Homo sapiens: one gene and its partner. The protein of the gene in region 2 interacts with the protein of the main gene of each other region in a pairwise test. Each region holds a gene or a part of one and is shown on either strand. Other genes may lie near its edges. The genes, in order: ATXN10 and MLC1.

The links.
Region 1: the proteins of MLC1 (region 2) and ATXN10 interact in binary tests that used the Homo sapiens proteins (3 or more experiments, as listed by UniProt).

What each region holds. Positions count from the first base shown.
Region 1 is NC_000022.11:45,661,001-45,677,062, reverse strand, and holds the start of ATXN10 (ataxin-10), read right to left. Parts: upstream 5,230-16,062; 5' UTR 5,000-5,229; coding exon 4,884-4,999; intron 1-4,883. UniProt on the Homo sapiens protein: May play a role in the regulation of cytokinesis. May play a role in signaling by stimulating protein glycosylation. Induces neuritogenesis by activating the Ras-MAP kinase pathway and is necessary for the survival of cerebellar neurons.
Region 2 is NC_000022.11:50,082,120-50,097,558, forward strand, and holds the start of MLC1 (membrane protein MLC1), read right to left. Parts: upstream 3,308-15,439; 5' UTR 3,236-3,307; exon of another isoform or gene 2,843-3,235; 5' UTR 2,784-2,842; coding exon 2,607-2,783; intron 1,055-2,606; coding exon 965-1,054; intron 1-964. Other genes in the region: RNA helicase Mov10l1, read left to right, coding at 7,970-8,066, 9,882-10,066. UniProt on the Homo sapiens protein: Transmembrane protein mainly expressed in brain astrocytes that may play a role in transport across the blood-brain and brain-cerebrospinal fluid barriers. Regulates the response of astrocytes to hypo-osmosis by promoting calcium influx.

The DNA of each region.
Region 1 (16,062 bases), 4.4 Mb from region 2:
GAAATATTCTATATCTGTGCTGTCACATCACATGTGGCCAATGAGCACTTAAAATATGGCTAATGCCAGCCTGGGCAACATGGCGAGACCCCATCTCTACAAAAAATAAACAAAAAAATTATCTGGGCATGGTGGTGTACACCTGTAGTCCCAGCTACTGGGGAAGGAGGCAGGAGGATTGCTTGAGCCCAGGAAGTCGAGGATGCAGTGAACTATGATCGTGCCACTGCACTCCAGCTTGGGCAACAGAGTGAGACCCTGTCTCTAAAAAAATAGTAATAAAGGGCAGGGCACGGTGGCTCATGCCTGTAATCCCAGCACTTTGGGAGGCCAAGGCAGGCGGATCACCTGAGGTCGGGAGTTCAAGACCAACCTGACCAACGTGGAGAAACCCCGTCTCTATTAAAAATACAAAATTAGCCAGGTGTGGTGGCGTATGCCTGTAATTCCAACTACTCGGGAAGCTGAGGCAGGTGAATCGCTTGAACCCGGGAGGCGAAGGTTGCAGTGAGCCAAGATCACACCACTGCACTCCAACCTGGGCAACAAGAGTGAAACTGTCTCAAAAAAAAAAAAACAAATTAAAAAATATGGCTAATGCAACTAAGGAAATGAAACATTAATTTTACTTATTTTCAATTAATTAAGTAGCTACATGTAGCTAGTGGCTACTTAATGAACAGCACAGATGGAGTATGACAACCCATCTCACCTGGCTCTACACTTTGTGGGGTCTGGAGATGCCTCATGGATGCATCATAAAGGCAACTAGCCAGGTACGGTGGCTCATGCCTGTAATCCCAACACTTTGGGAGGCCGAGGCAGGAGGATCACTTGAGGCCAGGAGTTCGAGACCAGCCTGGGCAACATAGTGAGACCCCCTTCTCTAGAAAAAATGCACTCCAACCTGGATGACAAAGTGAGGCCCTGTCTCGGAAAAAAAAAAGAAAAATAATTAAAGGAGCAACTAAAATAGAATTTTAAATGTTTGTCTTACTTGTTCAGAAAGAATTTAACATGACTTGCAAAGACTCACAGCAAGATAAATCACTTGTTAAACAAATGTGAAATACGGTGATATCTACATTAAACAAAAAGTATAAAACAAATGTGAGAAAAAAGAATTATCTTACACAGAGAAGAAACAGCTGAGGAATATCTCAATACTGATATTATATGACCATAAGCAATATGTTTAAATTATTTTAGTGACCAAGACACTGTTTAAGAAGTGGGTTACAGAATGCATTTAATACACAGCATGGAGAATTAAGACTGGTGTATTAATGATGTATTGCTACATAGCAAATTAGCCCAAAATTTAGCATTTTAAAACAATAACATTTATGATCTCACACAGATCTGAGAGGCTTAGGGTGTCTCATGAGGTTGCACACGTGGCTGAGGATGTGACTGGAGCTCAGAGGACCTGCTTCCAAGGTAGTTCATCACATGGCTGTTCAAAGGAGGCCTCAGCTCCTCACCACACAGCTCTCTGCATATGGATGCTTGAGTGTCCTCATGACATGGCAGCTGGCTTTGTCAGAGTGGGTGATTCAAGAAAGAGCTAGCAAAGAGGAAACTACGATGCTTTTTATGACCTAGTCTGAGAAGTCGCACACTGTCACTTCTACCATATTCTACTCTTCAGGAGCAAGTCACTAAGTTCAGCCCACACTCAAGGAGAAAAGAATTAACCTCCTCCTCTTGAGAAGGTCAGAGTATCAAAGAATTTGTGGACATATTTAAAATTCCCACAATGGGATGTAAGAATTTCTTTTCACTTGGGGGCTGCTAAAATTGTAATGAGATCCTGAGATCCCCTTCTCCGGAAACCCCAAAATTAGAACTGTCTTCCTGAAATAGCTGCAATTTTTGTTTCTGATAAGACAGGAGATTCAACACAAATGGATTCTTGGTCACTTACAACCTTGTTATATTTTAATAACAGGTCCTAAATAAATGGCATTTACTATGCATAAACCACTATGCTACACATATAATATTACAGATCCTCAAAATAATCTGTCAAAGTGGCTACCATCATCCCGTTTTCAAGGAAAGAAACAAGAAGCCTCACAAACTAAACCAGGATTCACATCCAGGTCTCCATGGTTCCAAAGCCACTGCTCTTCCCACTGCATGACACTTCTATTACTCAAGCTACCACTGACAGAAGTTTGTTTTGTAGCATGGAAGAGCTCAGAAGGACCACCAACTACATTATGTCTATGATTCTTCAAATATAAAATGGAATCCTAGAGAAATAATGTATTCCACCAAAAGAGAAGAATCTCTTAATTACTTTCCTCACTGTTTTTGCTTTTTGTCTGCTGTTTTCTATTTGCTACACTGAGGACTCATTTTGCCTGGCTTTTTGTCTCGTCCACCTTCTAACACCTTGGCCCATCCTCCCCCTGGATCCATCTGTGTTCCTGTTCATACTAGACAACAGCCCTATGTCCTCTCTGAAGAGGAGACCCCCAAGGACAAACACTGGCTCCCTGAGCATCAGAACTGGAGGGATCCTCTCAGAGGAGCAGGAGTCTGGGCCCAGCCCCACAAGACCCTTATAATTTGTCCAAAGACAAAGAGAAGCAGTGACAGAACCAGGACCAGAAGCCTGTCCTTATAAACCCTGATCATGAGTTCTCTGCACCACCACACAACTGTGTCTTTCCATGCCAGGACCTGCACATCAGTTCACCTTTCCTGGTCTCCAATCTCTGCCTGGAACAAGGACACTGTCCCAGAACTCAGATGAAATCTGGGAAGCATCCTCATTTCCTCATTCTCCCCCCCACAATCCAACTGGTCCGAGTCCTGTCCATTCAACCTTGTATCTCTCAGTATTTATTCTACTCATCCCCACAATGTCCTAATTTAGGCACTTTTCTCTTTCACATGGGCTTCCGCTACCACTCCTTAAAGGTCCCCCCTGTCTCTAGCTTCGTCCTCTCATTTATTCCCCACAATGGAGGCGGAGGCGGCCAGGAAGATCTAACAGGCAGATCTTATCGCGCCACTCCCTTGACAAAAACCATCAATGGTTCTCTGTAACTTCTTCCCTCACAAGAGATAGAGTCAAGAAGGGCCTTCTAAACTGGCTCAGGGGCTTGGATTTTCTCCAAGTTATAAAAAGGGAACTGATGTCTGACTAAATGTCTCTTCTGTACGAGAAACCTTATCTATGTTACTTAATTGTCTCATCGGTTTTGCAAAATTAACATATGGCCCCTTTGCAGACACTGTTCCCTCTAGTCCTCTCATCTATAACCGAGCACCTGAAATAACCTTAAAAAGCCTCTCCTGGCTCGCCAATCTTCCAACATATCCACATGCTCCCCTGTGCCACCACCTCTTGTATAGATTTCCATTACAATGTGTTTATTTAGCTATTTCCCAAATATGCCTGATAAAAGGGATCACTCACATCATTCCTCTCTGTACCCTCAGACCCCAACAAAAAAATCTGTTTCATAGTAGGTGCTCAATAAATGGTTGATGACTGGGTTATTAACTAAAAGGAGGGTCCATCATGATACAGAAATGCCTAAGCATTAAATCAATAAATACATCTCCCCCAAAGGCCCATAGAGCAGTACCAGGGACTTTTATTAATAGCATTCCTTCAGCAGCTCCACATTTCCCAAAGTGATGTGAGGTAAAGGAAGTGCTCAGACCAGGTGTCTAGTTTAAAGAGAGGAAGTCCTCTAGTGATCACCTAGGCTGACCCAAGTCTCAGTATTTCTTTCTTCAATGTTCCCTCTGCTTTGTACATACATACCCCCACAGCTGTGTTATCTTGTACATACTAGTACAGGAGAGAGCAAGGACTTTCCATTTTCCTACCCCATCACCTAGCACAATAGCTGATACATGGGTAACTACCAATCAATGTGTTAAGTGATAATATCAGCTACATTTAGTGCTATGTACAGGTATGTCCTAAGGATTTAATATGCATTATATCTCATTTACTCCTTATGACACTATCACCAGGGAGGTACTGTTCAACTTTACTCCCATTAAATAGACAAGAAAACTGAGGCCCAGAGGACAGAACAAGATCAAACAAGCATTGACTGAGGGCTTCGCACATTTTATATTTTCACGTACTTTATTTCATTTATTCCTCTGTACAATCCAGCAACTAAGCTGTGTATTATAGTCCCATTTTTAGACAAGAATTCTAAGGCCTGGAGAAACTGCACAGTAACACGCAGCTTGCAAGGCCAGGAACCAAATCCACAACTGTCGACTCCTGGGCACCTTCTCTTTTTGCCTGGCTATCTTGCCCCTCAGTGGCATCAGGACTGGACTGGTCTCTCCAGGCCCGTGCTCTTCCACACTGCACAGAGCGCTGCCCCCAGGGCAGATGGTGCAGCCTGGGCTCTAACGCCGAGGAGAAAGGAGTGCCAGTCCCACTCCATGCCTAGAGACTGCCATCCCCGCAACTGCCCAATTCCCGCGTCCGTAACACGGGTCTCTCCCGCTAAAACACACGCTTTATGACTCTGGGGGCCGCGTGGGTCTTGCAGCCAGGGCCTGGCGCAGCCCTCGCACATGACAGGGGAGGCCTAACCGTGTGTTGGGTCAACATCACCGGCACGCCGCGGCAAGGGCTCCCGGGATCGCGGCTTCGCACCCGGACTGGCTGCGGTGGGGGAGCGGGGCGCCCGCCCCAGGCCCCGCGGGGACCCACGAGCACGAGGCGGTGCCTGGGAGTCGGGAGGCCTGGGTGGCGCTCAGGCAGCCCGCGCAGGCCTCGCCCTCCGCGTCTCCAGCGAGGCGGGGGCGGCGCCTGGGTCCAGGCCGGGGCCGCCGCGGGAGTCCCGGCCGCCCTCCCCTGCCCGGGGCAGCCCCCCGGCCGGACCCGTTACCGGTTCCGCTGCTCTTTGAAGAGCGCCGTGAGCGCGCGCAGGGCCTCCAGGTCTTGGATGGGCGCCGGCACCATGACGCCCGACAGCCTGGCAGGCGGCGGCCTGGGCGCCGCCATCTTGCCGCTCACAGCTGGGTCGAGCCTGACGAGGAGGAGGAAGGCGAGGAGGACGAAGGGGGAGGATGACGAGGAGGGAGGAGTAGGATGGCGAGGAGGAAGGGGGAGGCCTCGCCCTACACAGCCCTAACCGCCGCCGCCGCTGCAGCCCGCGCTGCCCTGAAGCTGCGCCGCCGCCGGAGAGCTCTAGGCTGAGCCCAGACTCGCCTCAGGCGGGAGGAGGAGACGGCGCCGCGGGGGAGGGGGCGCCGGCGGAAGTCCCGCCTGAGGGGAGGGGGCGCGGCGGAAGTTCTGGGTGAGAGCGGGGAGGGATGCTGGGGGTGATTGACTGGGAAGCGTCGCAGACGGGGCTCCTCCGAGGGGAGGGGACGCCGGGGGGAGGGGGACCTGTGTTGATGTGGCCGTAACAGGGTCTCGGTCTTGGGAGCGGGTATCGGGAACCAGAGGTTCACCCTGAGAAAGAGGGGCGCGTCCTATAGGAGGGTGCCCGCGGACAGAGGGGTCTCCCCCAGGGGAGGGGATCCGGGGGGTAAGGGGCCTGTGGAGGGTGGGGCCGTAACAAGGTCTCGGTCTTGGGAGCGGGTATCGGGGACAGAGGTTCACCTTGAGGAAGAGGGGCCCTCCTGTGGGAGGGGGCCCGCAGACAGAGTGGTCTCCCCCAGGGGAGGACATTCTGGGTGGAGGGGACCCTCTTGGGAGGAGACGCTGACTGAGGGTCTCGGGAACGAAGGGGGCCGGGCAGAGGCTCCCACTGCTAAGGCTGAAGACCTTGATCCCACTGCTCAAGTGGGTTGATCAGTGCCCCCGCCCGGGTCCACTGGAAGCTGGAGCGGTCTGTCACTAGCTTGCAAGTCTCAGGCCCTGAAAACGCACTTCCCAGTACTTACTGATCATTGCTGATCAATACCAGACCACTTACCAGGCACTTTGCCTCTAGTGAGTATACATTGCTCCAGCTCCTCAAAGCCTTAAAATACCGTTCGAAGTCAAGAAGCTAAGTTACACAGCAATAGGGTTAGAATTGTTTTTTTTCCTAAGGGAAATGAATATATTTCACAGGAATCAGACAAGGCTTCTCTAGCTGGTGTTGATAACTCACATATTTTCTTTCCACTGCCCTTTATTACAGTGTATATACTTTCAACAAAAATTGTTGCTAAGCCCTGCGCTAGGTGCTGGAGATGTAAAGATTAATAAAAGACAGTTCCAAACCTGAAGGAACCTCACAGACTATTGAGAAGGAGAGAAGCAAACATAACTGAGTATAGTTGTGAACTGCTATAACTGTACAAATTGCTGTGGGACCACTTAAAATATATAAATACATACCCTTTACATTCTGCTTGGAGGGTAGGAGTGTGCTTATAACATGGCGCTTTTAACATTCTTTGCTAAATAAAATGTAAAGATAACAATAAACACCACCAGAGTATGCAGAAAAAGTGAATCCTGGTGGGGCATGGTGGCTCATGCCTGTAATCCCAGCACTTTGGGTGGCCAAGGCAGGAGGATTACTTGAGCCCAGGAGGTCGAGGCTGCAGTGAGCTGTGATCACACCACTGCACTCCAGCCTGGGTGGCAGAATGATACCCTGTATCAAAAAAAAAAAAAAAAAAAAAAAAAAAGGAGGGAGGGAAATGAATGCTGCTGCACAAGCAAGTTACTTGATATTGTCATTCAGTTTACCCATTTAATTGAGTATGTATTTATTCATTCCACGAATATTGCGGTGTACTATGTGCCAGGTATTAGATCACTTATTAGTAGCAGTGCTCAAGACAATGCAAAATGTTTAACACTCCTTAAGCTAACAGGGCAAAAATCTCTTAATTTTCCCTTGAGGAGCACAGGATAGTAAAATGTACTTGTTATGCACCAAAATCCTGATCTTTAGGCCAGACACGGTGGCTCATGCCTGTAATCCCAGCACTTTGGGAGGCCGAGGCGGGCAGATCACTTGAGGTCAGGAGTTCAAGATCAGTCTGGCCAACATGGCAAAACCCCCTTTCTACTAAAAATTAGCCAGGCATGGTGGCGGGTGCCTGTAGTCCCAGCCATTTGGGAGGCTGAGACAAGGGAATTGCTTGAACCTGGAAGGCACACGTTGCACTGAGCTGAGATCATACCACTGCATTCCAGCCTGGGCAACAGAGGGAGACTCTGTCTCAAACAAACAAACAAAAAAACCTGGCCTTTAGTTTTCTTATTCTCAAATGTAACATTCCCAGAAAAACATTCCCTATAATATTCATACTTCTTGCCTGGAATATTGTAATATATTCCTGATTGGTCTTTTGGCCTCTGCTCTTGCTTCCTTACGTTTTAGATCGTTTAAAAAATATTTCAACATTTAACTCTGCCCAAAACCCTCTAAGGGATTTCCATTTCACTCAGAGTAAAAGCCAAGTTCTTCCAATAGAAAAGCCCCTAAATGACCTGCCTCCTCCTTCGCCATCACCTCCAGCCCCTGTGGGCTCTAATCACATCTACTAGCCTCTTCCTCTTCCATTGTGCTTCAGCCATACTGACCTCCTTATTGTCCTCTGTCTATTTAAAAGGAATAAGCTGAGGTAAAATCAATATAAAGAGTTTATTTGGGCCAACGTGAGCATTGCAGTCCAGGACACACATCCAAGTTGCCTTGGGGAGTGCTCTGGAGAACGAAAGAGAAGCTCAACTTTTTAAAGAAAAAAGGACGAATCAGGAGAGAGGGTGATTTAAAAGGTTGTTTGTCATGAATTCTCATTGGTTTAAGAAATAATGTTGGTTAATGATTGGCTGTACAATGTTGAACTATAGATTGTATGCCATTGTGTAGCTAGTTGACATCAGTTCGTCTAGAGGCCAAATAGAATGTGGCTTCAAGAGGTAATTAGGCCAGGCATGGTGGCTCATGCCTGTAGTCTCAGTGCTTTGGGTGGCTGAGGCAGGAGGATTGCTTGAGCCCAGGAGTCTGAGACCAGCCTGCACAACATAGTGTGAGACCCCCCATCTCTACGAAAAAATTTTTAAAAAATTAGGCATGGTGGTACATGGCAATAGTCCCAGCTACTCCAGAGGCTGAAATGGGAGGATTCATTGAGCCTAGGAGTTGAAGGCCTCAGTGAGCTATTACCACACCACTGCAGTCCAGCCTGGGTAATAGAGAGAGACCCTGTCTTTAAAAAATAGTAATAATTCCTTTTGAAAAGAGGTAAGTATTCAGCTCAAGGAGGAGAGACATGATTGGTGTTTCATTCCAATGCTTCTCTAGGCCCGATCATTTAAAGGAGATCATATTCCTCAGATAAAGTTTTGTTTTTCCTTTTTTTTTTTTAAATCCCATAACTCCACCAGGAAAAGAACTCTCCTGCCTTAGGAGTTTGTATATGCTGGTGTTTTTGTTTTTGTTTTTGTATAGAACAACTCCTCACAAACATCTCCATGACTTGCTTCCTTATTTCCTTCAACTACCTGTTCAAATGATCTTTTAACAACCTTCCTGATCAATCTATTTAAAATTGTAACAGGCTACCCAAATTCCTGATCCCCAGGAATTTTCCGCATAGCACTTAATACTTGATATATAACTTACTTTTCTATTTTGTTTATTGTTGCTTATCTATTTCACTTACTACTAGAATGTAAGCTCTACAAGGGTAGAGATTTTTGTCTCTTTTGGTTATTTTTGTATCTCCAGCCCAGCACCTAGAAAAAGACCTACTATGTGGTAATTGCTCAATAAAAGTTGAATTAATGAACAAAGAATCTTTTTAACTATATCAGCAGAGGCCGGACGCGGTGGCTCATGCCTGCTTACGGTTGTAATCCCAGCACTTTGGGAGGCGGAGGCAGGCAGATCGCCTGAGGTCAGCAGTTTGAGACCAGCCTGGCCAACATGGTGAAACCCCCATCTCTACTAAAAATACAGAAAAAAATTAGCCAGGCATGGTGGCAGGCACCTGTAATCCCAGCTACTCAGGACGCTGAGGCAGGAGAATCACTTGAGCCTGGGAGGCAGAGGTTGCAGTGAGCTGAGAGCACGCCATTACACTCCAGCCTGGGTGACAGAGCAAGACTCCATCTCTAAATAAATAAATAAATAAATATACATATATATATATATATATATATATATCTGCAGAAAGGAGAAAGGAGATAGCATGCCTCTAGAAGAAGTGCAATAATCCAAAAAGTACAGAAAAGGAGGCTGATGGAAAAAGAAGAAAAATTATAAGGGAAAAGATTAAAACAGAGAGATTAACAGGACAGACAAAAAGTAGAAATACGCATAAGAGAAACGAAAGGAAATTAAACTGGTCAAACAGTGGATGTTATTGACTGCCCAAAATCGACTAGAGGATTTCAACCTTGACTGAATTGACAGAACCAAGTTAATATTTCACTAGGGCTAAATGACATTGTTAATGTTATATAGCTGTTTGACTTAGACAAACCAGATGAACATGCCACCATGTTGATGTACGTGAATTCGACTTCAAATGAAATTTGTGATATAAATTTGTACCTTGAGCCCACTGCAGAAGAATTGAATCAGCAATGACTCAGTAATCAAGAAGGAAGTAAATACAAAGAAAAGAAAAGGAAGGAAGGCAAAAAAGAAAATCAGAGAAGAAAGTAGATGAGGTGCAAGGCAAAAACAGATTTGGACCAAAGTGCATATGATTTTGGCAAGGAAAAGAAAGAGGAAGTAAGTGAATACTGGTAAAGAGAATAGAAGATGAGGCCGGGTGCGGTGGCTCACACCTGTAATCCCAGCACTTTCGGAGGCCAGGGCGGGTGGATCATGAGGTCAGGAGATCGAGACCATCCTGGCTAACAAGGTGAAACCCGTCTTTACTAAAAATACAAAAAATTAGCCAGGCATGGTGGTGGGCACCTGTAGTCCCAGCTACTCGGGAGGCTGAGGCAGGAGAACGGTGTGTACCTGGGAGGCGGAGCTTGCAGTGAGCTGAGATCACACCACTGCACTCCAGCCTGGACAACAGAGCGAGACTCTGTCTCAAAAAAAAAAAAAAAAAAAGAGAGACTGAGTAGAAGATAAGTGACAAGTGGATAGAAAAATGTGTGCTTCTGCTGGCTTTTCTGTTGGAAACATCCTTCTTAGCATCTCTGCCTACGATGCTCTTGCTAGAAAGCTTTTGTCATATATCACCAACTCCACAAGATCTCATGTGTTCTTCAGAAGAATCTCTGGTCAGCCTGTGCCTCTCTTTTGGCACTGACTTTCCATAGTCAGCCTGTGCTATAGATGTGTGTTTATGCCCTCCTCTTCCACATCTGAGGTCCCTCAAGGCAGGGATTTTCTCATCTTCATCCCAGCCCTGTGCTTAGAAGCAATGCTATCAATATCTGTTGAATGGAAAACTCTGGAGATTGAGAAAAAGGAGAAAAAAATAACAGAGTAGTGTACTTGTTCAGAGCAGGGATTGGCACACTATCACCTATGAGCCAAACTCTTCCCGCCACCTATTTTCGTAAATAAAATTGTGTTAGAAACTGTCATAGTCATTCATTTACATATTCTCTGTGGCTATTTTGGCACTAAAGTGGCAGAATTGACTTGTTGCTACAGAGACTGTATGGCCTCCAAAGCCTAAAATATTAACTATATGGTTCTTTTTAGAAAAGGTTTGCCAACTTCTGGTAAAGAACATGAGCTCTGGAGTCAGACAGACCTGGGTGATGTGAATCCCTCTTTTATCTCTTAGCACCTGAACTTGGACAAGTAACCATCTCTTTAAGCCTTTTTTTTTTCATTTGTAAAATGGAATAGTAATAGCACCTATTTAATTAAATTGTTGGGAAGATTTGATGATAGTCAATTCAGAGTCTGTCATATATTTAGCTTAGTTCAATACGTGTTAACAGCGAACTGTGTGGTGTAAAAGTGAGAAAGTAGAAAGAACGAAGTGGGCAAGGAGATCAAAAGCTGTTAGGTAGTTGGGCAAATGAGAAACAGTAGGAAACACGTAGGAAATCGTGAGTACGGTCAAGATATAATTGGTAATAAGTGACTGACAATAGACTACCGGTATTTGAGGTGATGATTCTGATGTTAGTAATAGTTGCCTTGTGGGGATCAATTATTTTTATGTAATTTGTAAAGTTATTAAGCTATTCCTTATGATTGTTACCAATCCATTTTACATTTTATTTTTCATATTTCAATTTAACCAGAAGATTTGAGCATCTATCATGGACTATATTAGAACCTAGTCTTATGAAGATGAATAATATAATACCTTAGTCATGAATAACCTCTGAGTCTATTAAAGGAAAACAGAAATATATACTGATAAGATAGCATAATAAATCATGTCAGAAAAAAGATGTATAAAGAGCTAAGAAGCTGGAGAGATGAAGAAATACAACTAGAGAAACCATGTAAGCTGAATCTTAAATAATTGTATGAGCACTAGACAAACAAAGGTGGAAATACATTCCAGAAAATGAAGCACCAAAATATAGCCTCAAACCAGCTGACTTTATATATGGTTCTACCAAACATGGAGAAAAGATGTAATCCCTGCCTTATACAAGAAGCTTCATAAAACAGAAAAAGCTTCACTTCTGGTAATGTCACGCCAAGTTATTTAAAGCTATCCTCTGAATGAGAAAAACTTTTATTTTAAACCCAAATGAAATATTTCAAAAACCTCTTTGTCACCTGGTTGATCCAAGGAACCAAAACACCTGAATTGGGATTAAGACAGACCCAGAATGGTGGCACATTTAGACACATGACAGAAGCAAATGAAAACCATCTTTGGAAGAATGTGCCATCCTAAGCATCAAATTATTTCTACAAATACTTCTCAAATAGAGTGAACAACACAAAAATAACTCACTCTACAGGGAAACCAGAAATTATAAGAACCAGCAGAAGCAACATACAACAGAAACTGATCCACAAAAACTTAAGCTATTGGAATGGAACATGGCAATGACACAACAGGTTTACTATGTTCAAAGAAATAATTCGGCCAGGCGCAGTGGCTCACGCCTGTAATCCCAGCACTTTGGGAGGCTGAGGTGGGCAGATCATGAGGTCAGGAATTTGAGACCAGCCTGGCCAACATGGTGAAACCCCGTCCCTACTAAAAATACAAAAAATTAGCCGGGCGCGGTGGCATGCACCTGTAATCCCAGCTACTTGGGAGGCTGAGGCAGGAGAATTACTTGAACCCAGGAGGCAGAGGTTGCAGTGAGCCGAGACCACGCCACTGCACTCTAGCCTGGGCAACAGAGTGAGACTCCATCTCAAAAAAGAAAAAAGAAATAGTTCAAAAGTCCAAGCAAGGTATTGAACTATAAAAAGTGAAATAGTGTATTTATATAATAAATAAATAGAAATTCTGGAACTGAAATTAGAAATAACACAGTAACAACTCAATTGATGGGATTAAAACAGGTTAGAGAGACCTAAAGAGAGAATAAATGAACTGGAAGATTTAGAAAGAAACTATCCAGAATGAAGAAATTAAAATACAAAAAATACAGAAGAGCTAAGAGATGCAGAAAATAAGTTGAGAAAGTCTAACACATGTAATTGTAACAGAGGCAATACCTAGGAGAATAGCTGAGAATCTGCCAAAACTGATGAAAGATTCCAAACCACAGATTCAAGAAGCTCAATGAATAGAAAGCAGAATACACGAAAAGACATCTAAATATAAACACACCATATATTCACATCTAGTGAAGTTATGCAAAAAGACAAAGACAAAATCTGATAAGAAGCCACAGGGGAATAAAAAGACAGTTTATTTTTAAAGGAGTGAGGATTCAGTAAGCTGTATCCTCCACAGAAACACTGGAAACCAAAATAGTGGAATGCTATCTTGGATGTGCTGAAAAATAAAAATAACTGCCAACAGATCCATGGTAAAGGAAATACAAAAGAGTGTGAATTAGAGACAAAAACAATCCCAGATGGAAGATGAGAGACACAGAAAGGAATAAAGAAGACTGAGAATGGTATTTACCATCCGCTTCATCTAAATGAACATCCAAAGTACAAAACAATCATAAAGCAACAATGTCTCATAGGGTTTAAAATAAAAAATTAAAATATTCATGACATGGCTCTGCTCCAAACCATCATAACACTACCTGGGACTTTTGCCTTCTGCTGTCCCAACTAGTGACCCCAGGACTCTCAAAAGACCACCTCTGTAGGAACAGGCCCAGGTTTATCTCCTGCCTAAGGACTTCCTCTGCCTTATACTTCCCAGCAGCCAAGATCACAGAAAGTCAAAGGCCAGCAAAGAAAGAAAATCCATTGACAGGAAAGAAGGGAAATCCATTGAGAACAGTCTGTAAAAGCCAGAACGGTTTTTTGTGAAATGAGCTTTGTCAAGTCAATCAGTACCAAACAATATTTGGATATTATTGGCACTTTGTGCTCCCTCTGCCTGAACTGGGAATTCCTCTATTAGTTTTGACATTATCTGGTATTGAACCTCACTTATAAACATCTGGTAGAAAACTATGGAAGAGAAACTTGCAAATGCCATTCTGAATGGGGCCATCATTGAGACAGTGGTTTAGGCCAGGACTATTCAAAGTGCTCTGCGGACCAATTCATGACAAACTTCCACTTCTGGGTAAGATGGACGAAGACCCTACTTGGTGACCCCCACACTTATGTACCCCATAGTAAATAATCATAAAACCTAGATATACTACAAAAAACAACCACCTGAAGGGCTTGAGAGTGAACAGACGCAGACTCTGATGAGGAGTACCTCCTCACTTGGAGGAAGGGAGATGGGGAGCTATACAAGTAGGTTCACATCTCTGTAGCTTTTAGCCTGGGACTAATTGTAGCACGTGGATGTGCACAGCAATGGTTGGGGGCACATGTGCAAAACTCTGCATTCTTTCTGGCCTGGGGAAACATAAAAGTAAATGTATGAAAATTGAACACTGAAGAGAATGGGAAAAATCCCAAAAGGGAAAGAGCCAGAGAGGGTGCTATGCTTTGAATGTTTCTCCTGTCCAAAACTCATGTTGAGATTTTAATCCCCAATGTGGCAGTATTGACAGGTAGGGCCTTTAAGGAGTGACTGGTTCATGAGAGCTGTCCTCATGAATGGATTAATCTATTCATAGAATAATGGATTAATTGGTTATCTTGGGAGTGGGTCTGGTGGCTCTATAAGAAGAGGAAGAGAGACCTGAGCTAGTACCCTCAGCCCCCTCACTATGTGATGCCCTGCACTGCCTTGGGACTCTGGAGAGAGTCCCCTTCAGCAAGAAGCCTCTCGCCAAATGCAGCCCCTCAATTTTGGACTTTTCAGCCTCCATAACTGTAAGAAATAAATTTCTTTTCTTTATAAGTTACCCAGTTTCAGATATTCTGTTATAAGCAGCAGGAAATGGACCAAGATAGAGGGGATCCCCAAATTAATTATATCCGTATAGCTGACTGCCCACTTAATAAACCTTATCATGTGGTGTAGACCCAAAGCAGCTCAACTAAATACAAAAGATCTGACGCAAAACTGGAACTGCCCCTGAAGAAATAGAGTTTTCAGCCCAAGCCCACATAAGAAAATTGTCTATGAAAACAAAGGAAACAACACTCCACAGAGGAAAATAACAGAATCCAGAATCCCCACAGCTTACTATTAATAGTATCAAAATACAATCCAAAAGTTACCTGAAATACAAATATGAAATTAGAGAACATTCTCAAGAGAAAAGAAAATCAAATCTGTCCATGAGATGAACTAGATGTGAGAACTGACAGATTTTAAAGCAATGATTATAACTAAATTAAATGAGGTAAAACAAAACATGACTTCAGTGAATAAAAACCTCAAGAGAGAAAATGATCAATCTCAGCAGAGAAATAGAAATGATTAAAAAGGGCTGGACATGATGGCTCACGCCTGTAATCCCAACACTTTGGGAGGCCAAGGCGGGCAGATCACTTGAGGCCAGGAGTTCAATTATGAGCACCTGGCTGAAAAAATATATATTTTTTAAACAACAAAGAGAAAGAATATCAGGGACCTGTTAGAGGATATCAGATTTTCAAATATTAGTGTAATTGCAAGGCTAGAAGGACAGGAAAGAGAAAACAGGACCCCCCAAAAAAAAGTATGTGAAGAAATAATAGCCAAAATTTTCCAAATTTGGTGAAAGGTGGAATCTTGCAAATTTAAGATGCTAAACTAACATCAAACAAAATCAACATAAAGAAGCCTATGCTAAGACACATCACACCAGTGAAAGTCAAAGAAAGAGAGCAAACAAACATCTTGATAGCATCAACATAAAAATGACATATACAGAAAAACAATTATTGATTCATGACTGCTTCTTATCAGAAACCATGGAGTCCAGAAGATAGTGGAACATTTGTAACCTCCTGAAGGAAAAAAAAAAACTATCAATCAGGAATTCTACATCCAGAAAAAATATTATTCTAGAATAAAAACAATATTAAAGACATGTTCAGATAAAATAAAACTAAGAGATGGCCTCACCAACAGAACTGTACCACGAGAAATGCTAAAGGAACTTCTTCATGCTGAGGGAAATTATATCAGATGGAAACTCAAATCCTCAGAAAAGCTGACAAGTATTAGACATGGTAAATAGCTGGGTAAATACAAATAATTTTTCCCATTTGCATTTTTCCTCTCAATTGTTTTATAAACCATATAATGGTTCATAGCAAAAATTAAGCATATTCATGTGAGGTGTATAATGTATGTAGATGTATTACATGTAACAACAATAACAAAGAACAGAGGGGGATACTGACCTGTAAGTTCATTGTATATTACATTCCTTAGGGTAGCCATTAAAAAATGTAAGGAATTGTAGCTAAGAGGCTAATGGGAAAATCAAAATGTAATTCTGAAAAGCATTCAAGTGAGAAAATAAAAAAGAAAAGGAGGAACTGAAAGGGGGAATACAGAGAAGACAAACAGAAAACAAAGGCCAGGTGTGGTGGCTCATACCTGTAATCCCAGCACTTTGGGAGCCCAAGGCAAGAGGATCACTTGAGCTCAGGAGTTCAAGACCATCCTGGGCAACATTGTGAG
Region 2 (15,439 bases):
GAAGCGAGAGGAGGGGAGAGCTCGGGACCAGCTGAAGCAGGAGGGGCGTGGGGTCCGCGGCTTGCGGGCCAGAGGGGCATGGGGTCCGCGGCTTGCGGGCCAGAGGGGCATGGGGTGCGCGGCTTGCGGGCCAGAGGGGCATGGGGTCCATGGCTTGCGGGCCAGAGCCCAGGGGTCAGCCAGCATGGTGCTCTAGCTGCCGGGACGCTGGGGAGGCAGTGGCCGGGGTTCACAGAGGACCAGGGGACAGCGGTTGTCTGTCCTCCCTTGCTCTGAGGATCAGTGGGTGCCTCCACCGGCCTTGGCACTGTGTAAGTTTCTAAAAACACAACATGAAGCTTTGGGAGGATGTGGGGCACAGGTCCCAGTCCCCTGAGGGCAGATGCTGCCAGCTCTGGCAGGACGCAGCCGCAGGCTCAGAATCAACACGCAATTCCCTGCACAGGCGTCTGCAGAGCAAGGTTCAGGCCTGCTTCATCAGTAATTCTCAAAGGTGATGAACTCTACGTGAAACTAAAGTCATATGAAGAGTTTTTTGTTTTTTTCTTGTTGTTGTTGTTTTGAGACGAAGTTTCACTCTCATTGCCCAGGCTGGAGTGCAGTGGCACAATCTGGGCTCACTGCAACCTCCGCCTCCCAGGTTCAAGCGATTCTCCTGCCTCAGCCTCCTGAGTAGCTGGGAGTACAGGCACCCACCACCGCGCCCAGCTAATTTTTGTATTTTTAGTAGAGATGGGGTTTGTCCATGTTGGTCAGACTGGTCTCAAACACCTGACCTCAGGTGATCCACCCACCTCCACCCCTCAAAGTGCTGGCATGACAGCCATGAGCCACTGTGCCCGGCCCATATGAAGAGGTTTGAATGAGGTACAGGTGACAGAAACCTGCACATCTCAGAACAAAGAAACCAGAGCACGTGCCGGCGAGCTTGGGCACTGGCAGAGGCGTGGAGGAAGCTGCTTACAGAGCCTGCAGCACAGCGCAAGTAATCCATCTCAGCCGGGAACACGTTCCCCAGGTACAGCGAAAACCCCGAGGTCACCAGGAGGCAGCTCTGCAAGACAGCGACAGAATCCCAGGTTACAACGCGCCCCGTCCCCAGGCTGGACCCTGACCCTTCAACTTCTGCTTCACTGTCTGTGTATTGGTGACTCACCCACGTCCCCCAGCATCAACCACACCCGCACCTGGGACCCGCCCATCCTGGACTCCTCCTGTAGGACAGACGCAGCCCCGCCGCAGCCCAGGACATGGACCAGCCTCCCCCAGCCATGTCGGAGCATGGACCCCCCACGCTGTTATCTGGAGGAGAGAAGAAAGGGGATCTGCCAATATTTAGAGCAAGGAATGGCACCTCTCCCCACAAAATACTCCTGCCCCAACATGTTGTGCGTGCAGTCTTCCAGATCCCACACCCAGGTCCAGACACGAGACTGGAAAACAACTGCCCATCCCCCTCCGTCTGCAGAACCTAATTTCCAGATCTGGAAGAAGATCCCTCCAGGCAGGGGCTCCAGGCCCAGGGGCTCCTGAGCAGGGAAGACCCTAGCAGGAGGCAGGGAGGGTGCTCTCTCTCACGCACAGCACTGCAGGGGTGCGGTGGGGAGGGGGCTCTCTCTCACGCACAGCACCCCCGGGGTGAGTCTGAGGGGAGTCAGTATCAAAGGTCACTGGGACCCAGGGTCCTGGCAGAGGAAGCGAGGTCTGGGGCAGAGGGGATCTGGCCTGGGCGGGGGAGGGGCTGCGACCAAGTCCAGGGCACCAGGTGGAGGAGGGCAGAGCCCGGAGATGGCCACCACCACCCGGGAGCCGCCTCTGTCCCCAGCTCCGAGGCAGACGCCTGTCTTGGTGGGGCATGCTCAGGCCACGGGAGGTGGGCAGGACCACTGTGGGTGCTGCAGGGGCTGCCGGCGGAGGCCAGGGCACAGGGAGGGGAGAAATCACAGCCTGGATCTCATTCTCAGCCCAAGCTACACGGAACCGGGGGTCCCTGCATAGAGGCCTGTCCTGCAGCATGGCTCTGAGCAGCTGCACACACTCAGGCCCAAGTGGCTCCTCCAATCATCTCTGTGCCCACGACTGTGCAGGGAATGGCCAGGACCCCAGGGAAATCCCTCGGACATCTGGCGCTGCCCGTCCACCCCAGACCTGTTCCTTTGTTCCCCAGCTCCCTCCCAGCCGGCCCCTGAGGCCCTCCCTAGGAGGAGGAGGTCCCTGAGGTTCTCTCTGTGAGGGCCGACCTGAAGGCCTGAGACGCCTCCTCCCACCTTTGCAGGTGACCCCTCAGAGGACCCTGGGCCCCCAGAGCCGAGGGTCATGGAGACTCCTGGGGCCCATTCATGGCCCTGGGACTGTCCCTACCCTGGTGGGACTAAGCCACAACCTGGAGCAGCTCAAGGCTGGCACAACAGACACCCATAAATTAATAAAAATAATTGTGAAAACACAAGCAAAACAAGCTCGTCGGCATCCAAGAGTTCTGCAGCAGCAGGGTTAGTCTGAGAGTTGCTCTCTCTGTCCCACCTGGGGCTCCAGGGCGCTGCAGTCCGTCACCAGAGGGACCAGATGCTCGTGGCCCTCCAAGGGCTTAGTGTGGAGCTACTCACCCCCATCAGCACAGAGAAGACCCACGTCTTGTGGCTGAAGCAGGGGGGCAGTCTCTTCGACAGCTGCAGGTCGCTCGGCTTCGCGTCTGGGGCATAGCTGGCGGGGTCTTGCCGGCCCCGCTCCAGCGTGGGCATCCGGTCATAGGCCAGCTCCTCTCTGAATGGCTCCTGGGTCATGGCACTTGGGGACACCACAGCTGTGCTGAATGTACAGCCACGTGTCACCAGTTCTTTATCTGGAATAAAATTATCATCGGCTTTGGCCACTCTGAGGAAACTTCAATAAGTTGTTTCCAAGAAATATTTTTTAACAAAAGAAATATTGTTCATACTGAAGTGCTCTAAATTTGAAGAAGAAAATGAGCACTTGAATCTAAAAGTGAAAAAGAAATAACTTTCCTAGAAAAACGGACCTGAATAGTCTGGGTTCAGGGTGAGATTCTACACTTTAAATGCCTCATTGATCCATCTGGGCCCTCCAGGTGCAACACCTGACAACATCCATCGGCAACTTCGTCCATGAACACATCACGCCGGGGACTCAAGCACGTTAAACTGCTCCAATTGGTAGCTAAACGAGAGATTGCAAAACATGCCTCTACTCAACGGCTTAATGTCTGAGCACTTACCTCCCCCGCTGCTCTGCCGTTGGGAGCACTGGTCTCTGGGTGAGGGACTTCCAGCAAGAAGTATTCACAAATGAAACAAAAGCTCAGCAAACTTGAGCTGAAGGCAGGGGAAGGAGAGCTGCTTCCTGAATATCAATGAGGGGAGGAATCGGGTGGATCGTAGAAATGTTTCGTGTTGGTTGTGTAAACCACTGCCTCGGAGCTGTCAGAACCCAACTAGGAAAGGAAGGGGCCCTGCCTGTGCCACTCGCCACAGAGCTCGGGTCTCTCAGAAGAAAGAAGCGTCCCTAAGAATAGAATCCCACCAAGTACACATTCTGAGCAGGCTCTGTTTCTGAAACGTAACTGTTTACTCGAAGGTCTTCTACATCTTTCCAAGTAGCCTTTTTCCATCCCCCACAGCCACACGGTGGGAACCTCCTTCACACGGTCACATAAGCATTCACGCACTCGGCTTAGCTGTGTGGCCTTGGGCGGCTCCGGATTCGGCCCTGTGGTTTGCGTGGGCAGCCCGGATGGCTGGTGGGCCCGGTCCTGCTGCCCCCTTTATCTCTGCTCACCAAGCAGAGAAAAACCACAGTAATGTGTGTCGCCCAGAGACACTGGCACCCTGACAACTACAGCAACGGGTTCTTTGTGCACATTGTAAAAAGGCTCAAACTAAAGTTTCTGAAAAACCAGCTCCTTAAACCATGAACCCACATTAAAACTTGAGCAAAGTCATCAGGTTCCAGACCATGGGATGTTCTGTTGTCTTCGTTTCAATCAAGCAAGAAGCTTTTAGTAAGCTTTTATTAGCTTTTAGTAAGTTTTTATTAGCTTTTAGTAAGATTACACATACAAGCATCCCTGTCCCAGTGAAAATGCCCACTAAATCACCTCGATCAAAATGCGTAAGTGTCAAGTACGCATAAATGCAGCTCAAAACACTTTGCTCAACCTCACCCCCACAGGAAACAGCAGTGATAAATTTTTAGCAATAAACGAAAGTTTAAGCTATACTAGTATTTTAGGGTTAGTTAATTTTGTGCCAGCCACCACAGCCAATGTTCTGTTGTCTTCATTTCAATCAAGCAAGGATGAGAAATAATTTTCAAAAACTATAATCTGTGAAGTCAAGAACTCATTTTAATGGATTGAGAAACCTCCCAAACTTCACTATCTTTTAAAGCGATAAACGGGATTAGTGGGAGTGGGTCCAACTGGATCGAATCCTCCTGTGTTTCTTTTTGTTTGGAAAAAAATGTTAATCGGATTTCAACATTTTTTTCTTTCAAAAGTTGCTCTCCACTTAGAAATACAAACAAGCTGCCCTGAACCAGAGGTTGCAGAGCAAATCCCTCAGCTTCCCAGATCATAAGTCATCACTTGAGAAATGCTCCCAAGTTTCTGTTGGCAACACTAGTTTCTAGAACAGGCCCTGTTCTTTCATACAATCTTCCAACAAATTCTTGCTCCTAAAATGCCCTTCATCCCTCTGCCTGCTGATGTCCCATCATCATTCAACATTCAACAAACATTTATGGGGTGGACAAAGAAGTGACGTCCTTCCTATAGGCTGTTTACATTCATTGGGGGCACAGGAGTGCACAGGATAAACAAATTAGTGTGTTATACAGTGATATGGTTTGGCTGTGTCCCCACTCAAATCTCATCTTGAATTGTAATTCCCATAATTCCTACATGTCGTGGAAGGGGCCCGGTGGGAGGTAATTGAATCATGGGGGTGGTTACCCCCATGCTGCTGTTCTCCTGACAATGAGTGAGGTCTTATGAGATCTGATGGTCTTTTATAAGGGGCTTTCCCCGCTTTTGCTCAAGACTTCTCCTTCCTGCCACCTTGTGAAGAAGGACATGTTTGCTTCCCCTTCCACCATGATTGTAAGTTTCCTGAGGCCTCCTCAGCCCTGTGGAACTGTGAGTCAATTAAAGCTCTTTCCTTTATAAGGACTTGACTCTAAAATTACCCAGTCTTGGGTATGTCCTTATAGCAGCGTGAGAACAGACTAATGCATCCAGTGACACACATGATTTCCTCTATGAGGGAAAAGAAGTCAGGGGAGAGAAATGAGGGGCTGCTGTTTGCAGGGGCCAGGGCAGGCCTCAGTGAGAAGGAGGCAGGGAGGGGAGGCTGGCAGAGTTGAAGCAAAGGCCACAGGTTGGGGAAGGCAGGCGAGGACCATGCAAGGGGGATACAGGTAGGACAGCCAGGTGCCAGCACCTGTGGGTATGGAGACGACTCTGCTTCAACTCTGAGACAGACCTGCTGGAGGGGTCTGGGCAGAGCAGCATCCGGTCACTCACTGGGTGGAGAGCAGGCTGGGGGGTGGGAGGAGCAGGTGCTGCCTGGCATTGAGGTGGCAGTGGGCAAGTGGTGAGGAGGGACTGGGCTCTGAACAGGGTTTGAAGAGCGGACGCAATCTGCTGTCAGGGCGACGTTGCTGAGTTCTGTCTGAGCAGTGAGGACAGAGATGAGAAGACCAGGGTGGAGCAGGTGTGGAGCGAGGATCTGGAGTTCCATTCTGGACATGATGAGGCCGAGATGTCTGTGGGCATCTGCCGGGTCTACTGAGTCCAGAATCCCAGGGAGTGGCCCGAGCTGGGGAGCTGAGGGGCAGCCCTGCAGGCACAGCACCCGCTGCGAGCTGCCCTGGCAGGGAGCCCATGAGCCACCAGCCCTCATGCAGCTCGCTCTTGTTTCCAAGCTAATCTCCCACCAACCAGTAGGTCCCTGGGACCCTGCTGGCTCCTGTATGTGTTCCAGCACCCAGCCCAAGACACAGGCTTAGCGGGGATTTGAAATGCTAGGGAGTGCGCCACTCTCTCCCTTCCCACAGCAAGAACTATCAGTACACTCTGCATCCATGGACAGGCAAGGTCCAGGCTGTCATCAGACTGACAGATCTGACCTAGGAAAATAAAGCTATGTCAATCAAAAATAAGTCGGGGCTGGGCGCAGTGGCTCACACCTGTAATCCCAGCACTCGGGAGGCCAAGGCGGGTGGATCACCTGCGGGTCAGAAGTTCGAGACCAGCCTGACCAACATGGTAAAACCTTGTCGCTACTAAAAATACAAAAAAAAAAAAAAAAAAAAAAAAAAAAAAAAGCCAGCGTGGTGGCGCACGCCTGTAATCCCAGCTGCTCTGGAGGCTGAGGCAGGAGAATCACTTGAACCCGGGAGGTGGAGGCTACAGTGAGCTAAGATCATGCCACTGCATTCCAGCCTGGGCGACGGAGCAGGACTCCATCTCAAAAAAAAAAAAAAAGAAATAATAAAAAACAGAAACCACTGGAATAGTAAAGATATATATACGTATTTTGTTTTTGTTTTTGTTTTGAGGCAGAGTCTTGCTCTGTCTCCCAGGCTGGAGTGTAGTGGTGTGATCTCAGCTCACTGCAACCTCCACCTCCTGGGTTCAAGTGATTCTTCTGCTTCAGCCTCCCAAGTAGTTGGGATTACAGGCATGCGCCACCATGCCTGGCTAATTTTTTTTGTATTTTTTTGTAGAGACAGGATTTTGGCAGGTTGACCAGGCTGGTCTCGAACTCCTGACCTCAAGTGATCTGCTCACCTTGGCCTCGCAAAGTGTAAAGATATTTTTAAAATAGAGAAAAATCAATGAAATCAAGGGATGATTTTTTTTAAAAACTCAATAAAATTGATAAATATAGACTGATCAAGGAAAATGAGAGGGATGAGATAAATTACCTATGTCAAGAATGAAAGATGGCTCATCATTATGGACCATACAGACGTTAAAAGGATAATAAGGAAATATGCTGAACAACTTTATGCCAATAATCTGACATCTAATAATTGGATGAAATGGACAAATTCCTTAAAAGAATTACCAAAGTTTATTCAATATTACCTTGATAACTTGAATAGCCCTCTAGCTGATGCAGAAGTGAATTTCTCATTAAAAACCTTCCCACAAAGAAATCTCGAAGCCCAAATGGGTTCCCCAGCGAATACTACCACAATTTTTAGGGAATAAGTTACCCCATCCTACTCCCAGGTCACTGCAGGCCCGGCTTAAACCGACCCCAAACCAGACAGACACAGAAAACGGGAGGTCGGCCACAGAGCAATCTGCTTCACCAGCACCGTCCCCAACCTTGGACAAAGCGTTACCAAGCTGAGTCAGGCAATACACCAAAAGGATAACGAATCGTGACCAAGTGAGTTTTCCAAGGAGAGCCAAACAATGTAATTCCCTATGGGCTGAAATAAAAAGCTACAGGATCATTTGAATACATGCAGAAAAGCGTTGCAGAAAATTTCACACCCACTCATAAGAACTCTTGGAAAAACAGGAATAGAGGGAACTTCCTCAACTTGATAAAAAACACCAACAAAAAACGACTCCTAACATCACTCTGGGTGGTGAAAGCGCACTTTTCCCTAATGTGTGGGCGGCAAGAAGGCGGACCCGCTCGAAGCTCCGCCCACCCACGCGAGGCCCCGCCCGCCCGCTCGAAGCCCCGCCCACCCGGCGGTCACACCGCCTTGCGCGCTCGGCATGACGTCACTCCCACCAGGCACCTCGCCTTGTCAGGAGCTGCCAGGCGCCAACCGCCGACCTCTGACCGCTACGGGTCCCGGCTCGCGCAACGACCCCAAGGCGCATGCCCAGGCGCGGCGACCCCATTGGTGGCGGGCGGCGGGAGCGGCGCGGGCGCGTGCGGGCGGCGGCAGCGGCGGTGACGGCAGCCTAGGCCGGGCGAGGGCCATGCTGAGCCTCGCAGCCAAGCTGGTGGCCTTCTTCTGGAGGACGGCGGACACCCCTAGGGAGGAAGCCGGGCAGCTGGAGCCCGAGCTCGCGGAAGGTGGCTCGCGGGAGGCGGCTGGGAGGCGGGTCCCGGGCCCTCGCGTGTCGGCCACGAGGGAGCCGCGCCCATAGGTCTTTGAGTGCAGTGCGGGCCGGCAGGCAACGCTGGGCCCGGCCTTTCCTCATCTCCGCTGGCGGGGATCCCCGTTCGCCTCAGGAGGCTTCCGACCCCACAGCATCCCGCCGCTCTGGGCGCCCGTCCTCTGTGAGGTCTCTCCGGTGACACCAGCCCCTCTTCCCGCCCTCACTTTGTGTGTTTACGCCGAGCAGCTGCCAAGTCGTCTCTCCATGTCGTTCCTCCCTGTCCGCAGCGTCATTGGCGGTGGTGTGTCTAGAAAGCCCCGAAAAACGCGGCCCCGCAGACTTGGCCTGTCCTTTCAGAACGCGCTGCGCCAAGGCGTGCCATTTCCTTGTCTGGTTTTCAAGCCCATCTTTCTAAAGCCCGGGATGCGCCCGGATGCCCTCACCGTTCCTTTCTCCTGAGGTGTTTGTGTGTGTGTGTGTGTGAGACGGAGTTTCGCTCTTGTTGCCCAGGCTGGAGTGCAGTGGCGCAATCTCGGCTCACCGCAACCTCCGCCTTCTGGGTTCAAGTGATTCTCCTGCCTCAGCCTCCCGAGCAGCGGGGATTATAGGCACCCGCCACCACGCCCGGCTAATTTTTGTATTTTTAGTCGAGGGGGGGTTCGCCATGTTGGTCAGGCTGGTCTCGAACTCCTGATCTCAGGTGACCCACCCACCTTGGCCTCCCAAAGTGCTGGGATTACAGGCTTGAGCCACCACGCCCGACCTCTCCCGAGGTTCTGATGGCTTCTCCCGATGTTTCCTTATGTGGGAATGGAATCCACAGTAGTGGGTCCCTAATTGCCTTCTGTGAGAAAAGACAGGAACAGGCTTCAGGAGGGGAGCTTCCTGCTGCAGGCAGCGTGTTCAGGGCCTCTGGATCCACGAGGGCCGATGCCCGGGGGGCCGGCTGTGTTACCTGGAGCACTTGCTCCGTGGATCTCTTCGGTAGAACACGCGCTCAGCGGTAGCTGGAGCTCCAGCTCTTGGCAGCGCTCAGATCCTATGCCTGTACTGTAACCGTCGCCCCAGGTTCCTCCCGTGGCTGGGAAGCTGCAGTAAAGGCACGTTCAGGACTCAGGACCGTGGCTGCAGCAGTGGCCAGACGGCTGAGGGCGTGCGCTGCTCCTGGGCCAGACTTGTCTGCCCAGCCCCGAACCTTTTCCAGCACCGTGTTTGTTGAGATTCTCCAGTCTTCCGAGGCTGCTGCTGATGGTAATAAAAAGATAATCGATAGTACTAATAAAACCGTGCATGCTAATGACTCCCAGATGCTGATATAAGTGGCCATTTACATAGCACTTAACGCGTGTCAGCCACGCAGAGGTCCATACATGCACGTGTGTTCTGCCACTTAACCCTTCAGCAGCTCTCTTGGGTAGTGACGATTAGTCTCCATCTTACAGATGGCAACAGGCCCAGAGTAGTTAAGGACCTAGTCCAGGGTTACACCAATGGCAGTAGAAGAGCTAGGAGTCAACCCCATGCAGTCTGTTGTGGAGTCAGGGCTGTCACCTCCACAACCACTACCTGTGCCCTTCTGAGGAAACTGGGCTGTCTGCCTCCAAACCCCACGTTCCAGACACAGCACTCTCTGATGGGATTCTCTCTGTCTCAAGTCAGCCCGTTCGGAGTCAGTGCCTCCGAACTGCAAAAAAAGGAGGCTTTTGCACTCTGCCTTTCTCTGGTGGGGTTCACTGTAGCGTACGCTTGCTTTTATGGCCAAGATAACTTCTTTGTTTACCTACCTCAGGTGACACTAAGCTGAAAACTGTACGGGGTGTCGTGACAAGGTACTGCAGCGATTATGGCATGATTGATGATATGATCTACTTCTCCAGTGATGCTGTGACTAGCAGAGTGCTTCTGAATGTTGGACAGGAAGTGATTGCAGTTGTGGAAGAAAATAAAGTGTCCAATGGACTGAAAGCAATCAGGGTAAGGTTTGAGTTCATTTGGGAACAGTTTTTCTTCGCCACGGGACTTTGTGTTGTTTTTCCTTGTGTTTAATCTATCAGACATGACCCGGCCAAGGGAGAAAGAGTGGAATGTACCTTCAAGGGGATGCTTTTGCTCTTTATGATTTATGTTTTAAAAAATAGACTGGGTACAGTGGCTCACGCCTGTAATCCCAGCACTTTGGAAGGCTGAGACAGGCAGATCACTTGAGCTCAGGTGTTAAGAGACCAGCCTGGGCAGCATGGTGAAACCTCGTGTCTACAAAAAAAAAACCCACAAAAGTTAGCCTGGTGTCGTGGCACATACCTGTAGTCCCAGCTACATGGGAGGCTGAGGCGGGAGGATCGCTTGAGCCCAGAGGGTCAAGGCTGCAATGAGTTATGATTGCACTACCACACTCCAGCCTGGATGACAGAGCAAGACCCTGTCTCAATAAATAAACAAACAGCAGTCTTTGTAAATCATTCAAACAACATAGACATGTATACTTTAGAAAGTAAAGTTTGCCTATGAATTTATGCTGTGGAGAACATAGCAATTATATATCCATTATTTTCTTGCTTTTTCAACAATTTAATGGTTATCACCAAAGTAACATCAATAATATACAAATTTATACTCTTAGGAGCAGAATGAGAGACTGCACTTAATTTGCACTTAAGCCTTAAGTATGGTAACTTTTCTTTTTCTTTTTGTTTTTGTTTTTGTTTTTTTCTGAGACGGAGTCTCTGTCGCCCAGGCTGGAGTGCAGTGACGCAATCTCAGCTCACTGCAAGCTCCGCCTCCTGGGTTCACGCCATTCTCCTGCCTCAGCCTCCTGAGTAGCTGGGACTACAGGCACCCACCACCACACCCAGTTAATTTTTTTGTATTTTTAGTAGAGACGGGGTTTCACCGTGTTAGCCAGGATGGTCTGGAGCTCCTGACCTCGTGATCTGCCCACCTCAGCCTCCCAAAGTGCTAGGATTACAGGTGTGAGCCACCGCGCCCGGCCTCATGTTTTTTCTATGAATTATTTTTGGGTCCTTTGTCCACATTTTTGTTGAGTTCAGCTTTTTCTTTTGTTAAAGCTTATATATTAGGGAAATCAGAGCTTTTTAAGGAAAATTATTATATGAAAGTGTTAGGAATATTTTCCCCAGGATCATCTTTGACTGTGTTTTATAGTTTCATTTTTTGTAGTTAAGTGTGCCTCTTTTCCATGTAGCTTTTGGATGCTGTAAGAAGCCTTAGGGAGGCTTATTCCACTTCTTATTCCTAATATTCAAATTTTACTCTGAAAATTGTTTATTGACAATTAGAATTTTTTTTTCAATTTTTGAGACAGAGCTTTGCGCTGTCGCCCAGGCTGGAGTATAGTAGTGCGATTATAGTTCACTGCAGCCTGGAACTCCTGAGCTCAAGCGATTCTTCCACCTCAGCCTCCTGAGTAACTGGGACCACAGGTGTACACCATCATACCTGACTAATTTTTAAAATTTTTTTGTAGAAATGGCGTCTCACTGTGTTGCGTAGGCTGATCTGAAACTCCTGGCCTCGAGTGGTCCTTCCACCTCGGCCTCCCAAAGTGTTGGGATTACAGGCATGAGCCACCATGCCTGGCCTGTTTGTTGATATTTAAATATTTGACCTGCCTGGAATTTATTTGGGTGCACAGACTGAGAGAAGGAACCAGACATTGCTTTCCTAATGGCTAGCCAGTCATCTGAGTAGCTCACTTTTTCCCTGCTGATTTGGAAAATTCCTTAATCATGTATCAGAATCCCACCTGCATGTGATGTGGTCCTGATGCTTGTAAGGGGGCCCCATGGCATGGTTGCTGTGATAGGTGGTGAGCAGGTTTCCCTTCTTTGCTCTTATTAGCATATGGTATTTTTCTGGCTCTTCACATGTTCTGGATGAGTTTGGAATCTTGTTTCTCCCCCTCTGCCCAGATTTGCTTTGGATGGCACTGAGTTTATGCATTTCATTTAGAATAATTGATATTTGGGTCATATGGAGTCTTTTCCATATGTCTGTCCATTTATTTAAGCCTTCCTTTGTATTCTTTTTATAGTTCAATAGTTTTCTTCTTTTAGGTCCTGTAAATTTCTTACTAAATTTATTTTCAGGAGTTTTTATGTGTTCTATTAACATCATTTTCCATCGTATTTTCAAATTAATCTTTTTCTTCCTGTATGGGAAAGCTTTCAATTTTTTTTTTTTTTTTTTGAGACGGAGTCTCGCTCTGTCACCCAGGCTGGAGTGCAGTGGCATGATCTTGGCTCACTGCAAGCTCCATCTTCTGGGTTCACACCATTCTCCTGCCTCAGCCTCCAGAGTAGCTGGGACTACAGGCGCCTGCCACCACGCCCAGCTAATTTTTTGTATTTTTAGTAGAGATGGGGTTTCACTGTGTTAGCCAGGATGGTCTCGATCTCCTGACCTCGTGATCCGCCACCTCGGCCTCCCAAAGTGCCGGGATTACAGGCATGAGCCACCATGCCCAGCGATTTTTAAATGTAATTTGGAATCTGGCAAACGTATTGAGCTATTAACTACTTTTTAAAAATACTTGAGATGTACTTTATTATACTATTATAGTTAGTACCATCTAATGCTTAGTATCATCTTTCTCAAATTAAAAAAAAAGCATACCCAATAAAATAATTCAAAGTCTAGAATTCCATCATTCAATATGGTAGCCACCACTCATGTGCAGCAGTTTCGATTTATTAAAACTAAATGCAACTTACAGCCAGGCGCGGTGGCATAAACCTGGAGTCCCAGCACTCGGGAGGCTGAGGCGGGAGTTCGAGACCAGCCTGGGCACATAGAGACCCTGTCTCTTAAAAATAAATAAATAAAAGTGTTTCCTCAGTTTCCCTGGCCACATTTCAAGTGCTAACTGAAGCCTAGTGACTACCAAATTGGGCAGCACACATAGAGAACATTTCTGTCAGCTCTGGCTTAGAGACTGTGAATGCAAAGTAGAAGAGCCTCCCTCCACGTTCCCCACCTGCACTTTCATGCTGCAGACCTGATGCTCTTCTGGGTTTCTGTTTCTACCTTATCTGGTAGATAGTTGAGTCACTTAAACAATATGCTTGTATCTTTTATTAATTCACCAATGTTAGTATTTATGGACTTCCATCATCAGAGATGTACAACTGGCTCATTCACACTACCCTCTTTTCCTCTCCCAATTATTTAATTATATTTTTTCCTCCAAAGATTTCCTTTTGAACTTGAAATTATACGATAGTCCTCATGTTTTTGTGTGTATTTAAAGGAGTACTCTGGGTTCAGAATCTTTGAAAGAGGATCTGGAACCCAGAACCTGTAGAGATGATGTTTACCTCATTCTCTGAGCTGTGGTCGTGTACTCACACGCGGCCTTCCAAAGCAGGTTCTCATACCAAATTCCCGTTGATTTTAAGATACACCATTAATTTGATAATGAAAATTTAAAATGGAAACGTAGGTTGTGAGACTCATTCTGATCTCAGAAATGTGACAATGTGGAAAAACTGGCCCCTGGGTGTCCAGCAAATCCCAGCCCTCTTGGTGGTCAGCTGCCCTTCACTTGTTCCATCTTGTAAGGAATGCAGGACCTTTTTTGTTATGGTGAAGAGGGTTCATCTCTACTCACAATCTTGCTTTTATAAATTAGTAATGGATTTTTCAAGTACTTTTCAGTATCTTCCAAATGATCCCATAGTTTCTGTCCCTTTGCTATTAATATGGTGGAAAATACAGTTTCTGTGTTGTGAGCCGTTCTCACTTGATGGGAATGATCCCCATTTGGTATAAACCTGAATGTACTTCTGGATTTATTTTTTATTTAGATATTTTTCTTGTGGTAAAATATGCGTAATATACCATTTTAACCATATTGAAATGTACGGTTCAGTGGCATTAAGCACGTTCACATTGTTGCGCAGCCATCACCACAATCTGTCTTCAGCACTTTTTCAGCATCCCAGTAGACACTCTGTACCCATTAAACAGTTATTCAGTGTTCTACTTTATGTCTCTATGAATTTGCCCATTCTAAATACCTCATATAAGCGGAATCATGTGTCTGGCTATTTGACTTCTGTTTTCAAGATTTGCCCATGTAGCATGTATCAAAAGTTAATTCCTTTTTTATGGCTGAATATTCCATTGTGTGAATAAATCACATTTTGTTTCTCCATTCATCTGTTGATGGACACTTGGGTTGTTTCTACTTTTTGGTTGTTGTGAATTGTGCTGCCATGAACAAGTCTGTCTGAGTCCTTGTTCAGTTCTTTTGGGGCTACGCCTAGGAAGAGAATTGCTGGGCTGTATGGTAAGTCTAGGTTTAACTTTGTGAGGAACCAGATGTTTTCCACAGCAGCTGCACCGTTATATGTTCCCACCAACAGTGCATGAGGCTGCCACTTTTTCTGTATCCTTGCCAACACTTGCTATTTTCTTTTTCTTTTTTTTTCTTTTGACAGTAGCTATTCCTCGTAGTTGTGAGGTAGTATCTCACTGTGGTTTTGATTTGCATTTCCCTAATGATTTGTGAGGGCATCTTTTCATGTGCTTATTGGCCATCTATATATCTTCTTTGGAGAAATATCTACTCAAATCCTTTGCCCGTTTTGAAATTAGGTTGTTTTCTTGTAGTAGGAATTCTTTATATATTCTGGATATTAATCTCTCATCACATACATGATTTGCAAATACTTTCTCTCATTTTATCAATTGTCTTTTCACTTTCTTCATGGTATCCTTTGATGCACAGATGTTTTAAATTTTGGTGGAAGTCTAATTTGTCTCTTTTATTGCATGTACTTCTGATGTCACACTCAAGATACCATTGACTAATCCAAGATTATGAAGATTTTTTTCTACCAAGAGTTTTATAGTTTTTGCTTTTAAATTAAAGTCTTTGATTCATTAAAAAAAATTTTTTGAGACAGGATCTCACTTTGTTGCCCAGGCTGGAGTGCAGCAGCACAGTCACAGCTCACTGCAGCCTCAACCTCCCAGGCTGAAGTGATCCTTCCACCTTAGCCACCTGAGCAGCTGGGACTACAGGTGTGTGCTGCCTCACCCAATTTTTGTATTTTTTGTAGAGATGGGGCCTCTCTATGTTGCCCAGGCTGGTCTCGAACTCCTGGGCTCAAGTGATCCGCCCATCCCACGCCTTTCCAAATGCTGAGATTATAGGGGTAAGCCACCACGCCTGGCCTCTTTAATCCATTTTGAGTTAATTTTTGTGTTTGGTGTAAAACGAGAGTCTAACTTTATTATTTTGCCCATGGTTATTTTCCCAGCACTATTTTTTTTTGAGACTGCACAATTGCAGTTTATTGAATGGTCCTTGTCAAAAATCAATTG